Homo sapiens: one gene and its partner. The protein of the gene in region 1 interacts with the protein of each later gene in a pairwise test. Each region holds a gene or a part of one and is shown in the gene's direction. Other genes may lie near its edges.

The links.
Region 2: the proteins of TXK (region 1) and SOCS6 interact in binary tests that used the Homo sapiens proteins (3 or more experiments, as listed by UniProt).

The regions. Positions count from the first base shown.
Region 1 is NC_000004.12:48,068,243-48,075,279, reverse strand, and holds part of TXK (tyrosine-protein kinase TXK), read left to right. Parts: intron 1-1,226; coding exon 1,227-1,345; intron 1,346-3,605; coding exon 3,606-3,763; intron 3,764-7,037. UniProt on the Homo sapiens protein: Non-receptor tyrosine kinase that plays a redundant role with ITK in regulation of the adaptive immune response. Regulates the development, function and differentiation of conventional T-cells and nonconventional NKT-cells.
Region 2 is NC_000018.10:70,327,035-70,330,726, forward strand, and holds the end of SOCS6 (suppressor of cytokine signaling 6), read left to right. Parts: 3' UTR 1-3,165; downstream 3,166-3,692. UniProt on the Homo sapiens protein: SOCS family proteins form part of a classical negative feedback system that regulates cytokine signal transduction.

The DNA.
Region 1 (7,037 bases):
TGCCTTTCCAAGGGCTCCACCTGGGGAAAAGAGCACTGGTTCTGTGTCACTTTTAAATCCCACCAACCTAATGTGGGAGTAGGAGCTTCTTTCCTAAAGTACTTGGGCAGCCCTTTAGGGTACAAGATACAGGACCCTAACCCACTGATCTACTAATGTCTAGTACCCCCCTTTTCTTTCCCTTCTATTTCCCCCATTCCTCTTTTTGGGGGAAAAAGATCCCCCCAAAGCTCAGGGGATCTTTTTCTAGATAGTGGTGGTAATAGGGGTGGTGGTAGTGAGATCTCACTCCTGTTCATGGCCCATTTTCCAAGATATTTTGTTAATAACTCAATCTTTCTTCTCTGAAGAGCCTAGACTTGAAAAATTCAAAATCTATAAACAGTGGCTTTTCTCTCTTTGTTTTCTGTTAGTCATTCTTTACCTAAGTAGAATGACCTCTGACTCAATAAAGTGCTGACAGGTGGAGGGAGGTAGTGTATTTAAAAAAAAAGTGAGAGTATAGGGGCAGCATTAATAAATGCTGTGAAAACACTATATTGTATATTTAAGGGGCAACAAGCACAAGTTTATTTTTGTCTCTTCTCCTCAGTGTCTGACATTTGGACATCCCGGTGTACAATTCTCAAAAAAGAGAGAGGGTTCAACTTGTTATTTTTTTAAGGAGACGGTAGTTATTCTTGGTTTCTTTCCATATAGGGCCATTCTAGTGCATTAGAGATTTGTCATATCAGAAGCATTATGTTCATATACTTTTACTTTCCCCCCTTCTGTATGCCCCACAAAAAAACATGCACATGGAAGAAAATTCGACATCCAACTTTGAATCATTCATTTCCATTTTAAGAAGAGTGGTCTTTGTTTTCCCCACCCCTGGGAAGAGTGGTCTTTTATTTCCTTTTTATAATCTTGGTTGTTAGAGCCTTTAGCAGGCTTCTTTGTAGAGTTAAGAATTTACCATAATTAACATAAACAGTGAGCCATGTTTTGAACTGAAGCAGCATTATGATTTTCAGAGGTCCACGTAAAACAAATACAATTGAGACTTTGTTTGGGGAGGAAACATTATCAGGGACACTTTCACACTCTACTAACAAGAAGGCATCCACAACCTTTCTGGGGTAAAATACTTTGTCTTTTAGCAACTTAGAGTTAACTAAAGGGATTTGAAGTAAATAGAGCTTGGAGGTAATTAACACAATATGCTTTGAATCTGATAAACTTAGGTACGTTTTGGATGATGAGTATGTCAGTTCTTTTGGAGCCAAGTTCCCAATCAAGTGGTCCCCTCCTGAAGTTTTTCTTTTCAATAAGTACAGCAGTAAATCTGATGTCTGGTCATTTGGTGAGTGCATCTGATGTTCACTTGCTGGAGCTTGATTTAATAAAATGGGCAATGTGTTATTTTTAACTTTGATTTCCTAATTGATATAGCATTTTTTAAAAAGTCTTCTTGTAATTGTGCTTCCTTCTGTGTGTTCTAACCACATCCCGACTGTCTTTGGCAACTGGTGTCACATACCTTCTTACATAAGTCTGCCTTTTGGATCTTTTCCTTCCTCCATGGGCACTCACTATAAAACCATAACAAAGAGTCTACTGATCTAGAAAACAAACTCAGATAAGTTTTCCACTCCGCAGAGGCTTGAAGGAAAAATGATCTTATGACATTGTTTAGAGTGTAATTAATAAACTTAATTGTCTAAACTGTGAAGCAGGTTGACTATTTTCCAGTTGTTCAGTTGTTAACCTGAACTTAAAACCTGAGTTTAAAAAATGGTGGCATCTCATTTACTTCCTTAACTTTAAAGTTTGTGGAATTTAGACATAGGCTTCCTTGGGATCTATAAATTGATATTCATATTGGATAATGTTCTTCATTGAGAAAGAGACACCATAGACCCACGTCCAATGAAGTTTCGGGGTTGATTTTCAAAAAATGGTAATAAATATGCAAAAATCTATCTATCCTCTTTCACCCCAAACTTCCTGGAGGCTTGTGGGTTCTGGGTCCTCAGAAGGGTGTCAGTTTTATTGTCTACAATAAGGTTAAAACTGGGCACAGTGGCTCAGGCCTACAATTCCAGCACTTTGGGAGGCTGAAGTGGGAGGATTGTTTGAGACCAGGAGTTCAAGACTAGCCTGGGCAACCTAGCAAGACTCTGTCTTTACAAAAAAAAAAAAAAAATTAGCCAGGTGTGGTGGCATATACCTGTAGTCCCAGTTCCTCGGGAGGCTGAGGCAGGAGGATTGCTTGAGCCCAGGAGTTTGAGGTTATAGTAAGCTAGGATCGTGCCACTGTACTCCAGCCTGGATGACAGAGCAAGACCCTGCCTCAAAAAAATTAAAACATAAATTTAAAAACATACAATAAAGTTAAGCTTGTGTCATTAATCTCATTAGCTCTCCATGGACATATGATAGTCTCAGCAGGTGACACTTGAAGCTCTACTGAAGAGCAATTAGGTTGTGAGACCACATCTTAGAGACCAATGAAGAGCAATATAACGACCTCATCGAAGGTTGCCAAACAATTAGAACTCCCTGAATTTTACCTACTTGTCTCCCTCACTGAACAGTGAGCTCCTTAGGCACATGGATTGATCTCACACTTATAAAATCTCCAGGCCCCAGCAGAGGCCTCGCCTCTCATCAATGTCTAGTAAATATTTGTAGAATAAGTGAATAATTAAATGAACTCAAATTAGGAGTTCTTGCAGGAGTTTCACTAATCAATCAATCAATGATTATTGGACATCTACTTATGTACAGAGCCCCTGCTAGATATTCTGGGGCTCTGCCCATCAGTCTAATCTTTTAGCAGAAAGAAGGGGACACATGCCATTTACTGGCTGAAACTCTTGGCTAAGTAGGCAGCAGAGGCTCACATAATCCTGTCAGTTTCTATGGAATGGCAGAAAGGTTCATTGATTTCAGGATGCAGGAACGTGACTGCTGCTTAGAAATGAAAATGCTAGGCCGGGCGTGATGGCTTACGTTTGTAATTCCAGCACTTTGGGAGGCTGAGGTGGTCGAATCACCTGAGGTCAGAGCTCGAGACCAGCCTGGCCAACATGGTGAAACCCCGCCTCTACTAAAAATAGAAAAATTAGTTGGGCGTGGTGGTGGGCACCTATAATCCCAGCAACTCAGGAGGCTGAAGCAGAAGAATTGCTTGAACCCGGGAGACAGAGGTTGCAGTGAGCTGAGATCATGCCACTGCACTCCAGCCCGGTAGACAGAGGTTGCAGTGAGCTGAGATCATGCCACTGCACTCCAGCCCGGGCGACAGAGCGAGACCCTGTCTCAAAAAAAAAAAAAAAGAAAAGAAAATGCTACTGGCATTTTCTCCTGATAGGAGAGGCAATCAAGACCCATGGACAAGGAAAGGCATTGTTTTCACTTAGATTATTTTCAGGTTACAGGCCTCTTTGAAAACTAAAGTGAACATGATTTGCTTCCTTGACAGAACCGCTGTTATTCAGGATGGTTATAGCCCAAAGCCTGGAGCACAAAAATAATGCCTTGTAGTTTGAAATTGTTCTTTCAGTTCCCAAGCAATCATTTCTCTCTAACCCCTTGTTTTCCTGCATTTTTGTTTGCAGGAGTTTTAATGTGGGAAGTTTTTACAGAAGGAAAAATGCCTTTTGAAAATAAGTCAAATTTGCAAGTCGTGGAAGCTATTTCTGAAGGCTTCAGGCTATATCGCCCTCACCTGGCACCAATGTCCATATATGAAGTCATGTACAGCTGCTGGCATGAGGTAAGCATATGTTACTTTCCTATGAAGGTTGGCAGTCCCAGCATCTGAGAGCAGACCTGATTATCACAAACATTACTTCAGAACTCTGTCATGGCAGGAAAAGGCATCTGTGTCTTGGTCATGATCCTGAGAGTCTGAAGTACTATCTCAAACTCACTACAAAGTCATGAATCCATTTTGTTTTGAACAATGGCCTTTTATCTGAGGAATTCAGTGCATTTTCTGAGTCTTATCTGTTTGAGATTGGTTCTTGCAGAAACTCTTGGTGTTACTCAAGCCTCAGTGATTAGATGTTTTATTAGCTTTAAGAATTAATGGGCCGGGCGCAGTGACTCATGCCTGTAATCTCAGCACTTTGGGAGGCCGAGGCGGGTGGATCACCTGAGGTCAGGAGTTTGAGACCAGCCCAGCCAACGTGGTAAAACCCCATCTCTACTAAAAATACAAAAATTAGCCGGGCGTGGTGGTGCATGCCTGTAATCCCAGCTACTGGGGATGCTGAAGCAGGAGAAGAATCTTGAACCTGGGAGGCGGAGCTTGCAGTGAGCCGAGATGGCGCCACTGCACTCCAGCCTGGGCGACAGAGTGAGACTCCATCTCAAAAAAAAAAAAAAAAAAAAAAAGAATTAAATGATGGAGGCTGTGTGTGGTGGCTCACGCCTGTAACCCCAGCACTTTGGGAGGCCGAGGTGGCCAGATCACTTGAGGTCAGGAGTTTGAGACCAGCCTGGCCAACATGGTGAAACCCTGTCTCTACTAAAAATACAAAAATTAGCCAGGCCTGGTGGTGCATGCCTGTAATTCCAGCTACTTGGGAGGCGGAGATAGGAGAATTGCTCGAACCCAGGAGGCAAAGGCTACAGTGAGCTGAGATTGCGCCACTACACTCCAGCCTGGACAACAGAACAAGACTCTGTCTCAAAAAATAAATAAATAAATAAATAAGCAAATAAATAAAAGAATTAATGGTGGAAACTAAGGGTAGAACCAGGCTTGTTAAATTTCCAGGTTGAAAAAGAAAGATGGTGTTTCCATTTACTTCACTCAACTTTGCTTTGTCTTGCTTTTCCAACGCTAATAGTAATGGGTTTCATCTGTCTTCTGGCAGTCAGGACTCCTGCTACAGATTAAACTAGAATAGGAATGGAGGCAGAAAGTGTGTCAGGAACTTCCACTCAGGAAGAAATCTCTCCAGAACTTAGTTTTTCTATTTGTTGAAATGCCAAGCTTAGAAATAAAGCCAGAGGGGCTTCTTTTCCACCTCTGGGCACTGACTCAACACACCCCTGCCCTTCTCAGTGAAATTCCCTTTGATTTTGAGAGCTTTGGTCTCTTTCCAGCTGACAGTTTCAGCTGGAAATTGCAGCTTGATGAGAAGTTTCCTCCTGGCTGAAAAAATAAAGCACTTGATTATCAATCCACAAACACTAGAATATTGAATATTTTAAGAGTGATGTGGTTATTCATATTCCAAAAGCATTACATTTATAGAGAGCCCCAATGTATGAAAATATTTTACATATATTAACTACTTTACAAGGAATCTTGAAAGACATAGAAAAATGCTCAGCAAGCTGTAAGAAAAAAATGTTCAGAAAAATGTTCAGTGAGTAGTAATAAGCAGCCGTTTTAGGAGCATCTTTGCAATAACAATGTAAGTAGCTCAGAAGTATATGTTGTGTATGAAATAATACACACGTGTGTGTGTAATATAATGCTTATTGAGATGTTATATGTAAGTGGAACTGAGACATAGAAGGAGGAAGGGAAGTGATAAGTAGGATGCTGTCAGAAGGACCATGTAAACAACATTTGTCTCAAATTGCAATCAGAACATTGATTAATACAATGGTGTGGTTATGTCGATTTATTTGTTTGAAAAAGTTGATTTGGCCGGGTGTGGTGGCTCATGCTTGTAATCCCAGCACTTTGGGAGGCTGAGGTGGGCGAATCACGAGGCTGGGAGTTCGAGACCAGCCTGGCTAACATGGTGAAACCCCGTCTCTACTAAAAATACAAAAAAATTAGCTGGGCATGGTGGCGGGCACCTGTAATCCCAGCTACTCAGGAGGCTGAGGCAGGAGAATTGTTTGAACCTGGGAGGCAGAGGTTGCAGTGAGCCAAGATCCCACCATTGCACTCCAGCCTGGGTGACTGGGCCAGACTGTCTCAAAAAAAAAAAAAAAAAAAGAAAAGAAAAGATTGATTTATTTTTGAGACAGAGTCTTGCTCTGTTTCCCAGACTACAGTGCAGTGGCACAATCACATCTCACTGCAGCCTTGACCTCCTGGGCTTACGCAATCCGCCCAGCTCAGCCTCCTGAATAGCTGGGACTACAGTGATGTGCCACCATGACCAGCTAATTTTTTAAAATTTTTTCTAGAGATGGGGTCTCACTTTGTTGCCCAGGCCTCAAGCAGTCCTCCTACCTTGGCCTCCCAAAGTGCTGGGATTACAGATGTGAGTCATTATGTCAGGTGCAAAAGTTGATATTGCCTACAGCTTTACCCCATGTGCTTAGGGCATTAGAGTCAAACGTGATTATGCTATCTTTGAGAGACAAATTTCAGGATTCATGCGCAGAAACAGGCTCCTCACAGAGCTCCACAATTTATGCCCAGAGTCTCAATAAGGACCCTCACTTGCACTTGTGCTGTCTTCTGCTCTGTTTATTTTACTGATGCTCTCTGTTTATAAGCCATGAAGAGGGGTGTCTTTCCGCTGACCCTACTGTCAATGACCCCTGTGAGAATGTGGCTACTATGAGTAGCTCTGTTTCCCATGGTTTTAAAAGATGCTGACAGTGCCATCTCTTCTTCCTCTTGGAATCAGAGCTAAACCACACCCCTAAGTGAAGTAGGAAAAAATGCTCCAATCCTTGGCTCCATGACCAGGGATATGGGGTCACTTATGGTGAATATCTTCCTTTAGAGTTGCTGACTCAAAAACTGTGCAAAGATCACAGGCTTTTAAAACTTTTTAAAATGTAAGAATATTCAGCAATCATTTTTCTATGTGTGAGAGGGACTTCCACACTCTTATTTTTCTGTTGACTGAGACTGAAAGCACAACCTGTGCCCCAAGACCTTCAAAGTCCCTCATGAAAACATGCCTTTTGCTTTCTGACTGAAATCCTCCTTTCTATAATGGCTCAGGTGTCATAGATACCCTGAACTGAGCTTGGGAGCCTGGTATGCTAGATGCCCCTTCTCCCAGCCCTTTCTTTACCTCACACATGTCAAGTCATTCAAATATATCTCTAGGGTCGTGGTG
Region 2 (3,692 bases), on another chromosome or scaffold:
TGTAATTAAACTCGGGTACAAATTGGCATAACATGAAAACCTATGGAACTAGAATTATTATTAAAGAAATATTAGATGATCATAGCTTCCTGTGATAGCATTTTTTTGTGTGTTACCTATCCTTTTGGTAAAATGTTTTATCTGTGATTTCTTTAGCTTAGTCAACATTTTCTTGGGTGAACTTGATTGTCAACTAATTTTCATAAATGGACTGGATTCTCTTGCAACATTAATGTTTATAAAAAGTTTTAAATTGATTTGAATAGAAAGAAAACATTGTTTTAAAGTTGGATTTATATTTTTCTTCTATGTAGTTACTATAAAAGTGTGCTGGATTTGACCAATCCTTACCCCCACTATAAAGAGAACCCGTGATGACTTTAGTTTAAAAATTGTGGAAATTGTGGAGCAATTTTTCTCACAATGTGAGAAAAATTCTAAACCATATTAGATAATGTGGAAGTCATATTGTCTATCATATATACTGCCATTTAAAAATAGGTTTTTAAAATTTAGCTAAGTCTTAAGTAATTTGCCGTTGCTAATAATTTTATCTCCTTGAGTCGGTTGTTGGGGAGAGATGTTATATTCAATAATTTTTAGTTATTTTGTAATGCAGAGTGTTTATTCATTTCACAGTTCTGCAATGGATGTAGTATTTTGGGATTGCCCTGTCCAGAAAATTTTCAGCTACACACCTTTAAAGGAAAATGTTTCTATCTCAGATGAAACATGTAATTTGGGATGGTTCTTCCTTTGTCACTTAAAGGAAGAGATAGGAAAAGTCTCTTACCCACTTTAAACATGAGGGTAAAGGTTTAGGTCAAACTTACTGGCTTTGTCATTCAAGCATATCTGAATCCTCACTTTTTTCTCTTTGCTTTTTAGGGTCAGAACTGAGATATTACCAAGAAAAGGCACAATGCCATAATATTATGGTGTTATGGTATTTTGACTTAAAGGGGAAAAGGTACTTAATTTTGGTGGGATGTTGATTGTACCTTGTTAAAAAGACTCTCATTTTCTCATATGTTTTCTCCTAATAAGATGGAATATGGAGTATACTGTAATAATATAAGTGTTCATTATAAGCTATTTGGATTAAGAACTATTGCAGAGTTGTAAGCTTGTTATCAAATTAATGCAAGACATTTAAACTATTTTTTTGCAAAACTATTTATTTTTAAAACAACTTAAAGTATATCTAGGGTGAGTTAAAAGTCCCTGTGCATCTATATTAGATGGCAGGTTTTGTCACAGAGTCACTGTGTATTAATAATAAATGTTGAAATGGCTTCTCCGTGTCTCCAGAAGCATTTACATGTCCTCCTTGTGAGATCATGGTGCACAGAGGTCTTTGGACTGCCCTGAACCCGTCTTATGTGGACATAACCTATTCCCTTCGTTTTCTCATCATGCCATGTGTTTAAGATCTACCCGCTTAGTGTCAAGATTATTGAGATTTTCATCTAAATGTTTTTAAAATTGTATTTTGTGTTTTAGTGGAGGACAGTCTTGATACTGTTCTAATTCAGAAAGCCAAATTTTGATGCGCTTTTGTATATTCATAATATATACTTTAATATGCCCTATTCTAATCTAGTTTGAAATTGTTAGATTCTGATAGTATAATGATAAAATCAAACTATTTGCCAAAAAGTTAAATTTACAAGCAGAAAGATGTTTTGCGATATTTTCTACTTTTGTGTAGAAAGATAACCATTTGGGGTAGGCAGCACAACAGAATGTGAAAGATTGGCTTTATATGATACTAACACAGTCCAGTTAAAAGTGGAAACAGGGAAAAGAGAGAGAGAAAACTCATCATTTAGTTTGGTCTAGACACAATTTGGTTAAATTTTAGGATTCTATTGGCAGTTAACATAGATGACATGGACACAGCCTATGAGTGCTTTTTAAATACGTGCTTCTAAAAATCTGAGCTCAAAGCAAGAAAAAGAAAACAGGAAAGCTGTATCCATTTGCCATAATAGATGAATCAGAATTGTTTTCTATTAAATATTTCATCACGAAATATGATGGAGGCCAGAAGCTATTTTTAGGCTTACTATAACACTATTATGCATTTTTATAAATAAGAAGAAGGCTGTAGAAAGTACTTGAAAAATATCTAATTCTCTTTCTGTCTAAGGAAAACTCTTTCTACTTGGTGCAATAATCTGAAAATTTAGAAGGTCAAAATATGTCACAGGAAATGATCATAGACCTAAAAATAGTTTTTAAGGAAACCAGCTACACGGGGCAACCAACCATCTTGCTGTTGAAGAAAACAGTTCCAAAAGGCTAAATCATTGGCATAAAGGAAACAAAACCCAAAGTATGCGTTGTAATTCTTGAGCCAGTATTACTGAAACAGGATAAAAGTTATAAAATCTAACATAGGTTAATGCAATGTCTCTGCTAGTGCTACAAGTCTAAAATATCTTTGTAACAATGCTTTCAGAAATGCCAGTTTTAATTACATTTCACATTGTATATGAGAGATACTGCTTTATGAATGAATCGGAATAATACATTTTCATTTAAATCTTAATTGCTTTTCATTAAATGCGAAGTCTTAATTTCAAAATGAAATCACACTACCAGCAATAGACAGTTTTCTTGAAAACTCTAATAAGGAACAATAGCCAGTTCCGTAAATAACTTTAAAATTCTAAAAGTGTTGGTACACTAGCAATCACAAATATGGTTTCTTTTAATACTTTTTTAATCCTGTAAAGAAGGGTTTTTATAAACATTCTTTTTATTAATCAGTCATAACATGGCGAAGTGTGTAGTTGCTGTTTCTGAAAAGTGATCCAAACTCTACATCCAGAGATTATGAAAAATTCTTATAGAATTTTGTAACAAGTATTTACATGTTGGGTGAAAGAAATTTCATAGTCGTTGGAGTGCCATGAAATTAATACTTGCAATTCAGATTGCGGTAGTTTACACTTTTTCTGTATGTTTCAAATCAGGTGTGTACCATTTGTACTGAGAACACCACAGAATGAATTATCCAAAGTCCATTGATTTTAATACGTGTTTTGGTTTGTAAACAAATTATAGTAATTTCTTGCACATTTTTGGAAATTAATTGTATAAGAATTTATGTATCTGCTTCTAGATACAGTGTGTAAATAAAAAATTTCGTTCACAAGACCTGCCTTGTAGTCTACTTAATACCCTGAGAGGTGCCTGATTTTAATTAGTATGGGGTTAACGAGAAAATTTCTGGGTGTCCCAGGAACTGCGCAGGGGCTGGAGGATGAGAACCAGCAAATTTTAGTAAAAATGGGAAAGCAGAATCATGTCCCTAATAGAAGATATCAGCTAGTGGTGCTAATCTATGAAAGCCTTCCCGGTGAAGGCTGGAGTGAGTTTGGAGAACTTGTACTAAGCAAAAAGACTAAAAACTGACACAGTAATGAAACCTCACTGAAAGAAGGCTAGGCTAAATGATACAATGTTTGGATTGTGACATTAAAAAAGCATATCACTGTTAATATTTCATTGAAATACAACCAGGTCATTAAAGTGTATATAGGGGTCATTTAGAAATTTTTTCATAGATAAGAAAGAGTTCTTATATCCACTGTATTTAATTGTGTCAGAGTTCTTAAATCTGGGATTAAACACCCACTTTATTTTGTTTGAATACTTTGTAAACAAATTCTTTTTTAAAAAAA